Homo sapiens: one gene and its partner. The gene in region 1 interacts genetically with each later gene. Each region holds a gene or a part of one and is shown in the gene's direction. Other genes may lie near its edges.

Evidence for each region. A genetic interaction does not mean that the proteins touch.
Region 2: of PMAIP1 (region 1) and CUL5, a change in one rescues a mutant of the other (synthetic rescue), as found in Homo sapiens cells (one study listed by BioGRID).

The regions. Positions count from the first base shown.
Region 1 is NC_000018.10:59,895,278-59,903,012, forward strand, and holds the start of PMAIP1 (phorbol-12-myristate-13-acetate-induced protein 1), read left to right. Parts: upstream 1-4,718; 5' UTR 4,719-4,900; coding exon 4,901-4,958; coding exon of another isoform or gene 4,959-5,088; intron 5,089-5,150; coding exon of another isoform or gene 5,151-5,305; exon of another isoform or gene 5,306-7,369; coding exon 7,370-7,476; coding exon of another isoform or gene 7,477-7,571; 3' UTR 7,572-7,735. UniProt on the Homo sapiens protein: Promotes activation of caspases and apoptosis. Promotes mitochondrial membrane changes and efflux of apoptogenic proteins from the mitochondria. Contributes to p53/TP53-dependent apoptosis after radiation exposure. Promotes proteasomal degradation of MCL1.
Region 2 is NC_000011.10:108,011,896-108,018,922, forward strand, and holds part of CUL5 (cullin-5), read left to right. Parts: intron 1-7,027. UniProt on the Homo sapiens protein: Core component of multiple cullin-5-RING E3 ubiquitin-protein ligase complexes (ECS complexes, also named CRL5 complexes), which mediate the ubiquitination and subsequent proteasomal degradation of target proteins.

The DNA.
Region 1 (7,735 bases):
CGATAATATCCAAACTCCTCCAGTGGCTTTTCTCCCCATCACTTCTCACCACTCCTGACCTCACACTGCTGTCAGTCTCTGCCGAGAATGTCCTTCTTCCCTTTGGTTGGTGTGATTGCTTGGCCGACTTCTATTCGAGCCTCAGGTCCCTATGTTGATGCCCTTTCCTACTGATTGCTCTCCCAGGCAGCCCTGTAATCTGCTCTAATTTCCCTGGCTCAGGACTGACACACATCTTATTGCACCTGCTGGGTTACTCTCTATATCACCCTCTGGCCTTGCTACTCAAAGTTGTCCACAGAGCAGAAGCATCAACATCGTGACAGTTCACGAAAGATGCAGAATCTCAGGTCCAAGCAGAGCTCCAGAATCAGATGCACATTTTAAGAAGATACTCAAGTGATTCTTATGCACATGAAATTTCTGAGTTACTGGTCTCTCCACCAAAGATTGCATAGGGGCAGGGAGCATTGCCTTCCCTTGGCCTAGCTCAATGTCTGTCTTTTTTTTTTGTTTTTTTTTGAGACGGAGTCTCGCTCTGTCGCCCAGGCTGGAGTGCAGTGGCGCGATCTCAGGTCACTGCAAGCTCCGCCTCCCGGGTTCACGCCATTCTCCTGCCTCAGCCTCCTGAGTAGCTGGGACTACAGGCACCCGCCACCATGCCCGGATAATTTTTTGTATTTTTAGTAGAGACGGGGTTTCACCGTGTTAGCCAGGATGGTCTCGATCTCCTGACCTCATGATCTGCCCGCCTTGGCCTCTGAAAGTGCTGGGATTACAGACGTGAGCCACCGCGCCCGGCCTGTTTTTTTTTTTTTTTTTTTTTTGAGATGAGTTTTGCTCTTGTTGCCTAGGCTGGAGTGCAATGGTGTAATCTCGGCTCACTGCAACCTCCACCTCCCGTGTTCAAACAGTTCTCCTGCCTCAGCCTCCTGAGTAGCTGGGATAACAGGCATGTGCCACCACGCCCAGCTAATTTTGTATTTTTAGTAGAGATGGGTTTTCACCATGTTGGTCAGGCTGGTCTCGAACTCCTGACCTCAGGTGATCCACCCACCTCGGCCTCCCAAAGTGCTGGGATTACAAGCGTGAGCCACACTGTGCCTGGCCTCAGTGTCTGTCTTAAAGAGAGATTTTTTTTTTTTTTTTGAGACAGAGTCTCACTCTGTTGCCCAGGCTGGAGTGCAGTGGCGCCATCTCGGCTCACTGCAACCTCCGCCTGGGTTCAAGCGATTCTCCTGTCTCAGTCCAGCCTCCTGAGTAGCTGGGATTACAGGATTACAGGCATGCACCACCACGCCCGGCTAATTTTTGTATTTTTAGTAGAGATGGGGTTTTGCCACATTGGCCAGGCTGGCAGACTCCTGACCTCAAGTGATCTGCCTGCCTCGGCTTCCCAAAGCGCTGGGATTACAGGCGTGAGAGATATAATCCATCAAATACTCTGGCTAATTTCCTGTTAACAAACATGCTATACAGGAAAACAACAACAACAAACACTTTTATTAGAACAAACACAATCGATCTACAGCCTGTATATTTTATCCCAGGCTGACTCTACATATGCCTCATTTATATCTCATGTCCTCTTGTTTAACTGTCAAATCCTATTTTCTGCAAGAAATATATGAATGACTATTCTATTACTAATCATGCTTATTTTGTTTTGTCATTGTGGTTCATATATATATATAGATACGTATACATTTTTCTTTTTTTAAACACTGACATCGAAATGATCAGATGTGCACTGTCATTTTTGAACTTGTTTCACGAGAAAGGATTATCTAATAGTTTTTTAAAATGTCATTTTCACCAGTCCTACTTAAAAAAAAATAGTAGGGAATTCTAACGCTTCATGATACATTTTTATTAATTATTTCGTTTGGTCAAATATCTCCATGTTTATATTTGTTGCAAGCCCAACATTAAATGATACCTCCCTTTTCCAGAGGATATACAGTTAAAAGAAGCTATTCACTCTGCTTCTAGCTTTTTTTTTTTTTTTTGAGACAGGGTTCTCCCTTTGTCGCTCAAGCTAGAGTGGAGTGGCTCGATCATAGCTCACTGCAACCTCCTCCTCCTTGGCTCAAGCAATCCTCCCACCTCAGCCTCCTGAGTAGCTGACACTACAGCTTATACTTGTATTATCTGCAGAGACAGGGTTTCACCATGTTACCCAGGTTGGTCATCAACTCCTGGACTCAAGCGATCCCCCAGCCTCCACCTCCCACAGTGCTGAGATTACAGGCGTGAGCCACTATGCCTGGCCAATTCTCTTTAGAGAATGTTAGATCTGCCAAAGAGTTTATGGACCATCTCAAATCCTAAATCTTTAAAAGTCCTCTATAAACCAGCTGAATCTGACCCATGTCCAAAACCCACCTCGCCCGACTTCTTTCCGCTCTTTTCCTCCTTGCAAGCTGAATTTGCAATTCCCTAAAAAACAGAGTTGCCTAAGGTTTGTAGCCAGTGTGAGTCACATGACCAATTCTTTTCTAATGAAAATGTTAGAGGATGGGATTAACATACCTTTTATAGGTAAACAATGTTGTGATTCACTTTTTTTTTTTTTTTTTGGTGGTTGTTGAGTATATTCTCTGCATTTCAGGGTGCGTATTTGAACGACAGAAATTTAATAATTTATGCAACCAAAAAGTTAACGGTGTTCCTTATGTATTAGGTAAGTCAAAATGAGCCTGGAGTGGTTTTGAATTACCACTTGGGGATAATAGATTTCAAGGCAGCATCTCCAGTGTGCTTCCTGCGTCTTGTGATGATTCCTAAATTCTGTCCACTTTTACTCGTTTGTATATACCCCATTCAAAAACAGCCAACATCAGCCTCGAAACTATGTTGTTTAAACTCAAGAGCAGTTTTGTTCCATGCTTATATTGTTGTCCATACCTTCAGCAGGACCAAGCCATAAATAAATACTTGCTGGTTTGTGTTGACTGAATGATTTAAGATAAATAAACAACCTCAAATGCCTACTGAGGCCAGATAATGTAAATGGGAAAAGCAAACAGCGGGGAGTGTGGTGAACAGGAGCACCCTAGGTTCCTCTAAAGGGTGTGGCTTCGACCACACTTCAAACCTAGTTTGCACTTTTGGAAAATGGATCCCACGTTGTCAGAGATTCTGGTTTTCCAAGAGATGCTGGAATCTGGGTTTTTCATGCAATCCCTCAATGTTTAAAATGTTGGTAATCAATTCAAATTTTTACAATACATTTTGAAGGCCAATACTGTAAACCAAACTAAGCACTTCTAGGGAGCCCATGCAACGAATTTGCAATCTTTTCATTAAACAGCACAGCTAATATGAAAACACGCTTTTTTTTTCTTTTTCTTTTTTGAGACAGAGTCTTATTCCGTCACCCAGGCTGGAATGCAGTGGCGCGATCTCGGCTCACTGCAACCTCCGCCTCCCAGGTTCAAGCGATTCTCGTGCCTCAGCCGCCCAAGCAACTGGGACGACAGGCGTGCACCACCAAGGCCGGCTAATCTTTTGTATTTCAGTAGAGACGGGGTTTCACCATATTGGCAAGGCTGGTCTCGAACTCCTGGCCTCAAACGAACCACCCGCCTCGGCCTCCCAAAGAGCTGGGATTACAGGCGTGAGCCACCGCGTTCGGCGAAAACACACATTTTCTAAGAAACTGATTGCTGGGAAGGCTACAGTGGGTAAGAGCTCTTGCTCTCTGTGGGCCTGCCTGGTTCGGAATCAGGGCAGTGCTCTCTGCCTAAGTGAACTTGGGCAATTTTCTACAAACCTCAGTTTCTGCACCCGTAAAGTAGCAACGGTTGTTCTGAGGACGGAATGAGAAAATGCATGTCAAAGTCCTTAGCATGAAGCGGCTCTCAGTAACCGTTAACCACTCCTAATTACTCCTCTTCATAATAGTAGAATTACTCATGGCCTCGCCAAACATTATGCAAATAATTTCACGTTCCCAGGTAGCTCAGCCCTCCCACAAAAGATTTGAACGTTTTCCATATGATAACGATCCACTCGTTTTTGCTAAACATCCACAATGGGCGATATCGACCTATCTGGAAGGACACACACAAATCCCTTCCCAACTCAAACACGATGTTCTTTCTGGCTGGCACCAGGGCTTCTGTTTGCAGTGACTTCCTGGGACCCGGAGCTTTCTCACAGGGCCTCTGGCATCTCCTCTGCGGTGATTAAGGTTCTTCTCATTTCCCTTCCCTGTTACTGCCCATACTCTTCAAGTTCGAAAAGTTTCCTTTTCCAATCTCTTTTCTGGGCTTGTTTACCCAAGTCTCTAATTGCCAAGGCCTCTGGTCTCTCCCCACCCACAACGTTCCTCCTGGTTAAACCCTTCCCCTCCCGCCACTCCCAGCTCCCGCCACTCCCAGCTCCCGCCACCACTGCCGCTGACGACGTCCAGCGTTTGCAGATGGTCAAAGCCGACCCCCTTCTCCTCCCACCTCGTTTTGTAAGGAAGTAATTTCGGGGCCGAGCGCTCTGCGCCCCCCGCCGCGGGTCGGCGCCGCCGCGGGTCGGGAGCGTGTCCGGGCAGGTCGCGCTCAGCGGGGTACTTCCCCGCCCGCGTCCCGCGTCCGCTCCCATAACGCCGTCTGCGGGGCGGGGACAGGGGCGGGGACAGGGGCGGGCCGGGCGTCTAGTTTCCCTACGTCACCAGGGAAGTTCTCACTGGACAAAAGCGTGGTCTCTGGCGCGGGGATCTCAGAGTTTCCCGGGCACTCACCGTGTGTAGTTGGCATCTCCGCGCGTCCGGACACCCGATCCCAGCATCCCTGCCTGCAGGACTGTTCGTGTTCAGCTCGCGTCCTGCAGCTGTCCGAGGTGCTCCAGTTGGAGGCTGAGGTTCCCGGGCTCTGTAGCTGAGTGGGCGGCGGCACCGGCGGAGATGCCTGGGAAGAAGGCGCGCAAGAACGCTCAACCGAGCCCCGCGCGGGCTCCAGCAGGTACCGACCCGCTGGGGCCAGCGAAGACCCAGGCCGGGCGGGGTCGGGGCCGGGGTCGAGGTCTCGGCTGGGGCGGGCTCAGCTCGCCGGGGCTCAAGCACAGACTGCACGGGGGTCAAGGTCGGGCCAGGTCTGTGCCCTGGCGCGAGCCTTAGGGGCGCCTCCAGAAAGTTCTTCGGGGTTTTTCCCCAGGACCGGCGGGTACGGCGGGTACGGCGAGGGACCAAGCCGGATTTGCGATTGGGATGCAGCTGCGTTTCACCAGGGGCAAAAAGCTCCTTTCCTCCTCTCTTTCCTCCTCGCCACTTGCCCTTCCCCGGGGCCACGAGGAACAAGTGCAAGTGTAGGCGGCTGTCTCTAGGAGAAAGTCATTGTCGCGGCAGAAGGGGCAGGAGAGAGCCCCGGGGACCGCCTGGACTCCCAGCGCTTCCAGAGACGGCCCCACAAGGGCCCCTGTGTTCAGGAGCCTAGAAAATCTTGTAACATTTAAATAATCGATATTGTGGGAGGTGGGGATAGGAGAATAGGAGTTAGTCCGCTCCTTTTTTTCATTCATTCATTCGCACTCCCCACCCCGATACATACAGCTCCATCGTAAGTTTTCAGGCCAGCGCCCCGGCCCCATGCTTTTTCTAAATCTAAACAGAGAACCCAGTCACTGCCCAGAGCCCGAAGTCTGTGTGGGCCATACTGCTGTTGCATCAGACGATTATACGCCCCCCCCACCTTTTAAGTTACTTTCATTTTATAGAGCTCCTGGGGCGTGCGAAGGAAGTGGTGCATTGCAAATGTGACCATGCCTAAGTTGGTAACAGGCTGCTGTCTCTGGCGCTTGTGTGGGATGGAAAAAGCTTTGTCTACCTTTTGTGATGTCTTAGGATTCTGACCTTGTTTCTTTCTGAAGGATCTTACTTATGCATAGCACTTTCTGGTCCGACTTAATTCCCAAGAACAGGAAGCAGCACAAAGTCCCTCTTAAACTTGATTTGATTGATACTAATACATTTATAGGTGTGTAATGCAATTTTTAAAAAATTAAGGAAATGACCGGGAAGTATTTTCTGCCTTGTTTTCTACATTTTTGGTGAAAGGGATAACTTTTCCACTTAGAATTCAGGGCTTCCAGTGTCGGACGCTGAATGGTATTTGGTTTTTCTTTTAGAACTGTATATTAATATATCTCAATCTCTGTAGACAACATGTCTATGTAAATACTTCCCAACATATTTGATCTTGTAGCCCATAAAGAATAACACCTTAAGGGATTTATTAGGTCTCTTGGTGTAGGAGTTAGGAAAGATTTCACTCACTTCTTGTAGAGAGAAATTGGTTGAAATATAGGTTTAAGATTTTGCTTTACTATATATTGACAGCTTTGATTTATTTTGAGCCTAAATACGGTATTTTCAGGGTCGATTTATAAAATAGACCAGATTTTAATTTGTAATCATGATTTTTTAATGTTTGTAATCATGAAGTGTACCCGAAAGACCTCAAGCTGCTCTTTGAAATATTCAAGAAAATTGAAATTATAGTCAGTATAGATACGATATTATAGTCAGTATAGTGTTAACTGCACTTACTGAAAAAAAGTGTACTTGGAAATTATAAGCATCATTTTTCTTAATATTCAGTTAGAATAACTCAATTCCAAAAAGTAGTAAACATGTGAATTAAACATTGCTTATTTTCTGCTCCTCTCATTTCCATAAAGGCAATGGATTGGTACATAATGGGGTTATAGGAAGAAGTGGGTTTACATTAAAATAGAAATGTTTAAATTATTTTAGAGAATGTGGACTTAATTTTAGAATAAGATTTTATGAGTCTTTTATGAAAAAATATCAGCGTTTTTTAACGAGAAAAAGAATACCTCTAGATTTGCCTATATAATGAGAGTATAACCTAAGCTGTAAATTATTGCCATTTGAAAATCAAATCCTACTTGAAAGCCACACAGAACTTGACTTCTGTTTCCCAGCCAACCTTAAATGAAGAGAAAAAGATGACATCATCTAAGGCTGGTGACTTATGCTACTCTTTGTAGCATTGCTTTTAAAATAAACAAAGTGGTTTTACAATGTTCTCACATCCCAAAGAATGATAATGCTACTCTTTGTGGTATTTGACATATTTGAAAGTAAGGTAACACTTGCCTCATCCAGGATGCGTTTTTTAAAAACTCAAAGTAAATGTCTTTATTCTTACCTTAACGATTGCTTTCGGTGAGTCACAATGTGTGTAAGTGTGTGTGTGTGTCACATTTGGAAAACAGGTGCACATAAAGCCAAAGTTAAGAGAAATGCTTCCTGGGATACTCAATTTGTCACTAGTGTGGGCGTATTAGGTTTTGCTGGTTACAGTCTGTAATATCATCAATGTTCATGTCCATGTTTTGCTTTCCTTCTCAGAGCTGGAAGTCGAGTGTGCTACTCAACTCAGGAGATTTGGAGACAAACTGAACTTCCGGCAGAAACTTCTGAATCTGATATCCAAACTCTTCTGCTCAGGAACCTGACTGCATCAAAAACTTGCATGAGGGGACTCCTTCAAAAGAGTTTTCTCAGGAGGTGCACGTTTCATCAATTTGAAGAAAGACTGCATTGTAATTGAGAGGAATGTGAAGGTGCATTCATGGGTGCCCTTGGAAACGGAAGATGGAATACATCAAAGTGAATTTCTGTTCAAGTTTTCCCAGATTATCATTCTTTGGGATGAGAGAACATTATAAAACCACTTTGTTTATTTTAAAGCAAGAATGGAAGACCCTTGAAAAT
Region 2 (7,027 bases), on another chromosome or scaffold:
GATTATAGGCGTGAGCCACCATGTCTAGCTGCTTTTCTTTTTTAATATTGGAATTTGACTCTAATAATTTTATTGTCTGTTTAAAGCAAGTGGACTATTGCTGGATCTTAGAAGTCTTTCAGCTATGTAAAGATTTGTGTAGCACATTTTGACATATACAGTTAACTGCTTAGGGGTTTTGTATCTCTGAAAACCTTTCCATGTAACTACTTTATCTTTGTTGTTTTTCCTTACAGAGTGAGTCTGTAGAACATTTGTAGGGATCTGATATTATAATTTTATCTTCTGTTTTAGATTACTTTGAACATGTAATTGTGATTGTTCCTTTTCTTTTGCAATTATCATCTGGGCCCTTAGTGCTCATTTTTTTCATTTCCAGTTTATTGTTCCACCCCAAACAGCAATTGTTTAAACCTTTTCTTGCTGAGCCTCACCCCTCTTAATTCTTAGTACATTACTTTACCCAGCTATTTGAAGTGCCCTTAACTTCCTTGGTCGATACCAAACATTTTTCTTGTTTCTCCTATGTTCTTCTCTGTTCCATGCTACCTCCCAAATTGTCTCATTCTGCTTGTTCTTTTTCAGTCCTCATCTTCCCCCCAGGACTTGGTGGTATGTCCCCTCTTACTTTTTTTTTTTTTTTTTCAGTTTCCCTTTTTTCTCCTATGCCTATAAGAAAGTTCATATGTCGCGTCATATAAACTTTTCTTTTTTTTGGAGATGGAGTTTCGCTCTTGTTGCCCAGGCTGGAGTGCAGTGGTGTGGATCTCCACTCACTGCAACCTCCGCCTCCCAGGTTCAAGCAATTCTCCTGCCTCAACCTCCTGAGTAGCTGGGATTACAGGCACACGCCACCACACCCAGCTTATTTTTGTATTTTTAGTAGAGACGGGATTTTACCATATTGGCCAGGATGGTCTCAAACTCCTGACCTCAAGCGATCCGCCTACCTCGGCCACCCAAAGTGTTGGGATTACAGGCGTGAGCCACTGCACTCTGCCTCCTCATACAAACTTGTACTCTGCCTCTGCCTCAAACTTCTGTTTCTCACTGTCACAGTTCTTGGAAAAGCAGCCCCCATTTGCTGCCTTTATAATTCTTTGCCCTTTAACTTAATGATATGGCTTACTCTTCTCTCCCACCCAATTGTATAGAACCTGTCAGTCATAAAAGTATTAGCAACCTCCTGATTATCAAATGAGATTCTTCTCTGATAATATTTATCCTCTTTTCTGGTATTATTGCTCATTTCCTCTGCTTCTCTTTTGGTTTTTATGACATTCCCTCCTTGGTCTTCTCTCTCTCAAATCACGTTTGTTTTTCACTGACTTCCCTCCCCTGTCCCCAATAGAATTATTTCTCAGGATTTTATCTTCAGCCCTTTTCTATCTTTGTATATTTTTTTCTGGGACAGTCTTAACTCCCATGATTTCACTATTTTTATCTCTTAGCTCTGATCTGAGCTCTAGATCAAAATGCAGTTCTCACCATATCACTTTCCTGTTCAGATACCTTTGATGATTCAAATTATTTGAGATCTTTCCAGCTGGGTCTTCTCCTGATAACTAGTATTCTCTCTCTCTGTCTCTTGTCTCTCTCTCTCATACATGTGTGCGTACACACTCCTACTTAGCTGGTTACTTGTTGGCTCACTAGCATGCCAGAGGTCGTCATCTCCCTAATAACTAACTCTTAACTTTCATTCTCTCTCCTTCTGATTGGATCTAGTGAGATGGAGGCACAAGAAGGCAGTAGTATATAACCGAACCACAAGATAAATCAAACTTTAAACTGAAATATGATTCATACTACTTTTCTCAGTGGACTTTTTTTTATCCTTTAAGAGGAAAGAAAATGGAAATGTAAAGCAGTGATTCAGAGTGTCTATAGAGGCCGGGCATGGTGGCTCATGCCTGTAATCCCAGCACTTTGGGAGGATGAGGTGAGAGGATTACCTGAGGCCGACCTGGGCAATGTAGCAAGACCCTGTCTCTATAAAACAACAACAATAAAAAGTGCCTGTAAAAGTTATTCATTATTAAAATAACTTTATTGACATCCATATGCAAGGTACCATGGAGAATGCAAAGATATGTAGAACAATGTCCATGCTCTTTGGGAATTTACCATATGCTAAAGGAGAGTAAAAGGTACTAATGATTTATGATAAGGCAAAAGTTTCAGATGTGTTACCAACTGCTCTATGCTCCCTCACAGATTGAGGAAATAATTTCTGGTGGGATGATCAGTGAAAATTTTATGGAGAAAGTGTTGGAGCTGGATTTTGAATAAAGTGTTGGAGCTGGATTTTGAATAATGGGTAAGCTTTTTGTATTGGTAATTAGGAGAAAATTTGGTAGGAATCTAGGCTAGATCAGTGTGGCTGCAGTGTAAGCAGGGCTGCATGCTGTGTTAGATATTCTATATGAATAGTGTTCCTTGGGATTGTTGCAGCATAGAAACCCAGAATACAGGGAAACAACAAGAGGGATAGGAGTGAAAGGGAAGTCGGGTCAGATTACAAAGGGCCTTCAGTGCTAGGCAAGGGGTTTGAAATAAAGTTCTATAGTTACTGAGGAATATTTGAAAAATATGTGGGCAGAGATACTCTCAAGCCCTCAATCTATTTTTGGCTTTTACACATAAATAAAAGTTATTATATTTTCTGTATATTTATAATCTGCTTGTGAGATTGGCCATGGATGAGGGGCATTTGTGCCAGTGACATCTTGTTCATTGAAACCGTAACCATAGCAGGAGTAATTAAGTCTATGGGAAATACATTTATTCATTGAACGAGAATTTAGTATTTCCTAATTCTAACTAGATAATGATGAACTAGGCAGACAGCTCCTGCCCTTGTATAATTTACATTTTTGTTGGGAAGAGAGACAATAAACATAAACAGTGAAATACATACTGTAAGTCAAGTTGTGATAGGTACTATGAATAAAAACAACCAGGGTAAAAGAGAGAGTGCTCGGTGCTCTTATTATTATTATTATTTTTATTTTTATTTTTGAGACGGGGTCTCACTCTCTTGCCCAGGCTGGAGTGCAGTGGCACGATCTTGGCTCACTGCAACCTCCACCTCCTGGGTTCAAGCAATTCTCCTTCCTCAGCCTCCCGAGTAGTTGGGATTACCGGTGACCACCACCATGCTCGGCTGATTTTTGCATTTTTAGTAGAGATGGGGTTTCACCATGTTGGCCAGGCTAGTGTTGAACTCCTGACCTTAAGTGATCCTCCCACCTCAGCCTCCCAAAGTGCTGGGATTACAGGCATGAGCCATCACAGCTGGCTTATTTTTGATAAGATAGTGAGGGAATGCCTCTGAGGAGATAATAGTTGAGGTAAAACCAGAATGAAGCAAGGGAGCAAGTCATGTACATATTTAGAAGAGTTCCTTGTAGAGGGAACAGCCAGTGTGAAAGCACAGAGTCAGGATCATGCTTGGCAAGGAATATGGATGTGATACGAAGATTTGAATATCATCGGTGAATGTGGTTAAGGTGCATAACCAGAGAATTCTTTTTAATATGTCTAGTTAAACATAAATGAGAACCTTATTAAGAACTTGTCAATTTTTCATTGGGTTGATAGAAATTGCCCTCTTGAAACGTATATCTAAGAGGGACATGGGCCTTAGAGCGGCCTTCCCCTCCTTCAGTGTACTGTCCTAGAGAGATGGTTGCATTCGACACAGCCTAGGGAGGAAACAAATTTCAAGGGTGTCTGTGTTGGTCATGGGTAGGAATGGGAGAGGGAATAGTGGACTAATCAGTAACTGTAAAACTTTGTGATACATGTAAATGGTAGAATCTTTCATGTTCTATGAAAATAAATGATTGAACAATTACCATAATCTGGAGGTGATGTATGTTAATTAAAACTTCTAAAAGGAAGTGGCAGCTCAGGGTAAATTTTGATCAGTCATTTTTCAGTAGATTAGAGGAGGGGAATTTTAGACTGCTGGAAGGTAGAAAGAGGATACTAGGCATCTTTCTAGTAAAAAGAGAGGTTTTGTTTTTGTTTTTGTTTGTTTTGAGAGGAGGTCTCACTCTCACACAAGCTGCAGTGCAGTGGCATGATCATGGCTCACTGCAGTCTTGATCTCCCAGGATCAAGCGATCCTCCCACTTTAGCCTCCTGAGTGGCTGAGACTACAGGCACATACCACCCTAGGTCTGGCTAATTTTTTATAGAGATGGGATCTCACCATATTGCCCAGACTGGTCTCCACTCCTGAGCTCCAGTGATCTTCCTGCGTAGGCCTCCCAAAGTGCTGGGATTACAGGAATGAGCAAAAGAGCTAGTCAGCCAGAGAGGTTTTTCTTTTCTCTTCTCTTCTCTTCTCGTCTTCTCTTCTCTTCTCTTTTCTTTTCTGTTGAGACAGGGTCTCACTCTGTCCCCCAGTCTGGAGTACAGTGGCGCAGTCACAGCTCCCTACAGCCTTGACCTCCTCAGGCTCAGGTAATCCTCCCACCTCATCCTCCCACAGGTGCAACACCAGCATTCCCAGCTCATTTAAAAAAATGTTTAGAGACAGGGTTTTGCCATGTTGTCCAGGCTAGTCTGGAATTCCTGGGCTCAAGCAATCTGCCCTGTCCTTCCAAAGTGCTGGGATTACTGGCGTGAGCTACCACCCCTACTTGAGGTTTCTCTTAATAAATATTTTGCTTAGTGTCCTGGTGAACCCAGTTGTCAGTAAGAGCCATTTGCCTCCTGCCTTGGTTAGTAGGTGGAGGAAATAGATGCCTCATATGCTCTGTAAGGAAAGCAGGGCTGGGTGCAGTAACTCACACCTGTAATCCCAGTGATTTGGGAGGCCAAGGTGAGAGTATTGCTTGAGGCCAGGAGTTTGATACCAGCCTGGGCAACCCCATTTGTACAAAAACAAACAAAAAAAAACAAACAAAAAGCAGGATACAGCTCAGGTTAAAACTTTGGTCAGAGGCTGGATGCAGTGGCTCATGCCCAACACTTTGGAAAGCAGAGGCAGGAGGATCATTTGAGGCCAGGAGTTGGAGACTAGATTGGGCAGCATAGCAAGACCTACCACCTCTACAAAAATAAAAATTAGAAAACATTGGTCAAATCCATGGAGTACATACAAATAATATCAAAGGTAATTGATCTGTGTAGCTGTGGTTTGTTCATTCCATAAAAATCTGAGCATTTATGCTGTACTGGATACCATTTTAAATTTCAGGCTGGGCACAGTGGCTCACACCTGTAATCCAAGCACTTTGGGAGATTGAGGTGGGTGGATTACCTGAGCCCAGGAATTTTAGCCCACCCTGAACAGCATGGTGAAACTCGTCTCTACAAAAAATAAAAAATAAATACCTGGGGGTGGTGGTGTACGGTTTTAGTTCTAGCTACTCAGGAAGCTGAGTTGGGAGGCTTGCTTGAGCCCAGGAGGTTGAGGCTGCAGTGAATTGAGATCGCACCACTGCACTCCAGACTGGGCGACAAAGCAAGACCCTGTCTCAAAAAAAAAAAAAAAAAAAAAGTATCAGTGATACAATAGTGAATATGACAAAGTTCTTAGACTTTGGGGCTTATATCCTGATGGATGAATACTGACACTAAAGACATAAAGAATACACTTGCATAGTTTTTACTGGTAATTAGGGCGGTAGCGAAAACAACGTGATAAGAATGTTCAAGGCCGGATGCGGAGGCTCACGCCTGTAATTGCAGCACTTTGAGAAGCCCAGGTGGGAAGATCGCTTGAGCCCAGGAGTTCAAGACCAGTCTGGGCAACATAGTAAGACCTCATCTCTACAAAAAATTTAATAATTATCCAGGCATGTTAGTGCATGCCTGTAATCTCAGCTACATGGGAGGCTGAGGCAGGAGGATTGCTTGAGCACAGATCAAGGCTGCAGTGAGCAATGTTTATGCTGCTGCACTCTAGCCTGGACGACAGAGTGAGACCCTGTCTCAAAAAAAAAAAGTGTTCGGAAGGTGGAGCCACTATTTTACTCACTTATTTACAACAGAAAATAATTTTTCCCCAAAAAACTGCTTTTGACTATTTTTTGTTGAATGTTCTTTTTCTTCCTCATGTTGACATTTCAGCCAGATCCTATAGCTTTCCTGGGCTTTTCTTAAAAGTCTGGTTATTCCAAATTAAAATTTCAGTCTCATAGCCAATCAGAGTGTCTCTTGTACCATCTCAAGACTTTGTCTCTGGATGTGCAGAGAGGAATGGAGGAAGGGCATTTTTCTTAGGTTGGTTTGGGAGGCCTGAGGTGGCATTGGAGCTGAGACCTGAATGATCTGCATTCTAAGGCAAAGGTCTTGAGGTGCAGTGATGAGCTTGGCCTGTTTGAGGAACACCTTTAAAAGGTTGCTGTGGCTGGAACATAGAATTGCAGTAGTAAGAATTACTGGTATTCAAATATATACAATCAGCCCTCAGTATTCATGAGTTCCATGTCTGTGGATTCAACCAACCAAAGATTAAAAATACTCAGAAAAGGCTGGGGGTGATGGCGCATGCCTATAATCCCAGCACTTTGGGAGGCTGAGGCAGGCGGATCATGTGAGGTCAGGAGTTCAAGACCATCCTGGCCAACATGGTGAAACCCCATCTCTACTAAAAAAAAAAAAATACAAAAATTAGCTGAGTGTGGTGGCACATGCCAGTAGTCCCAGCTACGCAGGAGGCTGAGGCAGGAGAATCACTTGAACCCACGAGGCAGAGGTTGCAGGGAGCCGAGATCACGCCATTGCACTCCAGCCTGGGTGACGGAGTGAGACTGTGTCTTAAAAAAAAAAGAGAGAGAGAAACATCACATATATGCACTTAATGTGGCACCCGCACACATTTATTTTTATTAAGCCACCTCACTTTTGTTGAGATAAGAAAGATTTTATGAATCCCCTATAGATGCAAGTAGTGTACTTGCAATGTAACAATGGTTATGAGCTCAGCCTCTGCAGCCACACTGCTTGGGTTGGCCTCCAGGTTCTGCCATTTGCTAGCTGTGTGGTATTGGGCAAGTTACTTAACATC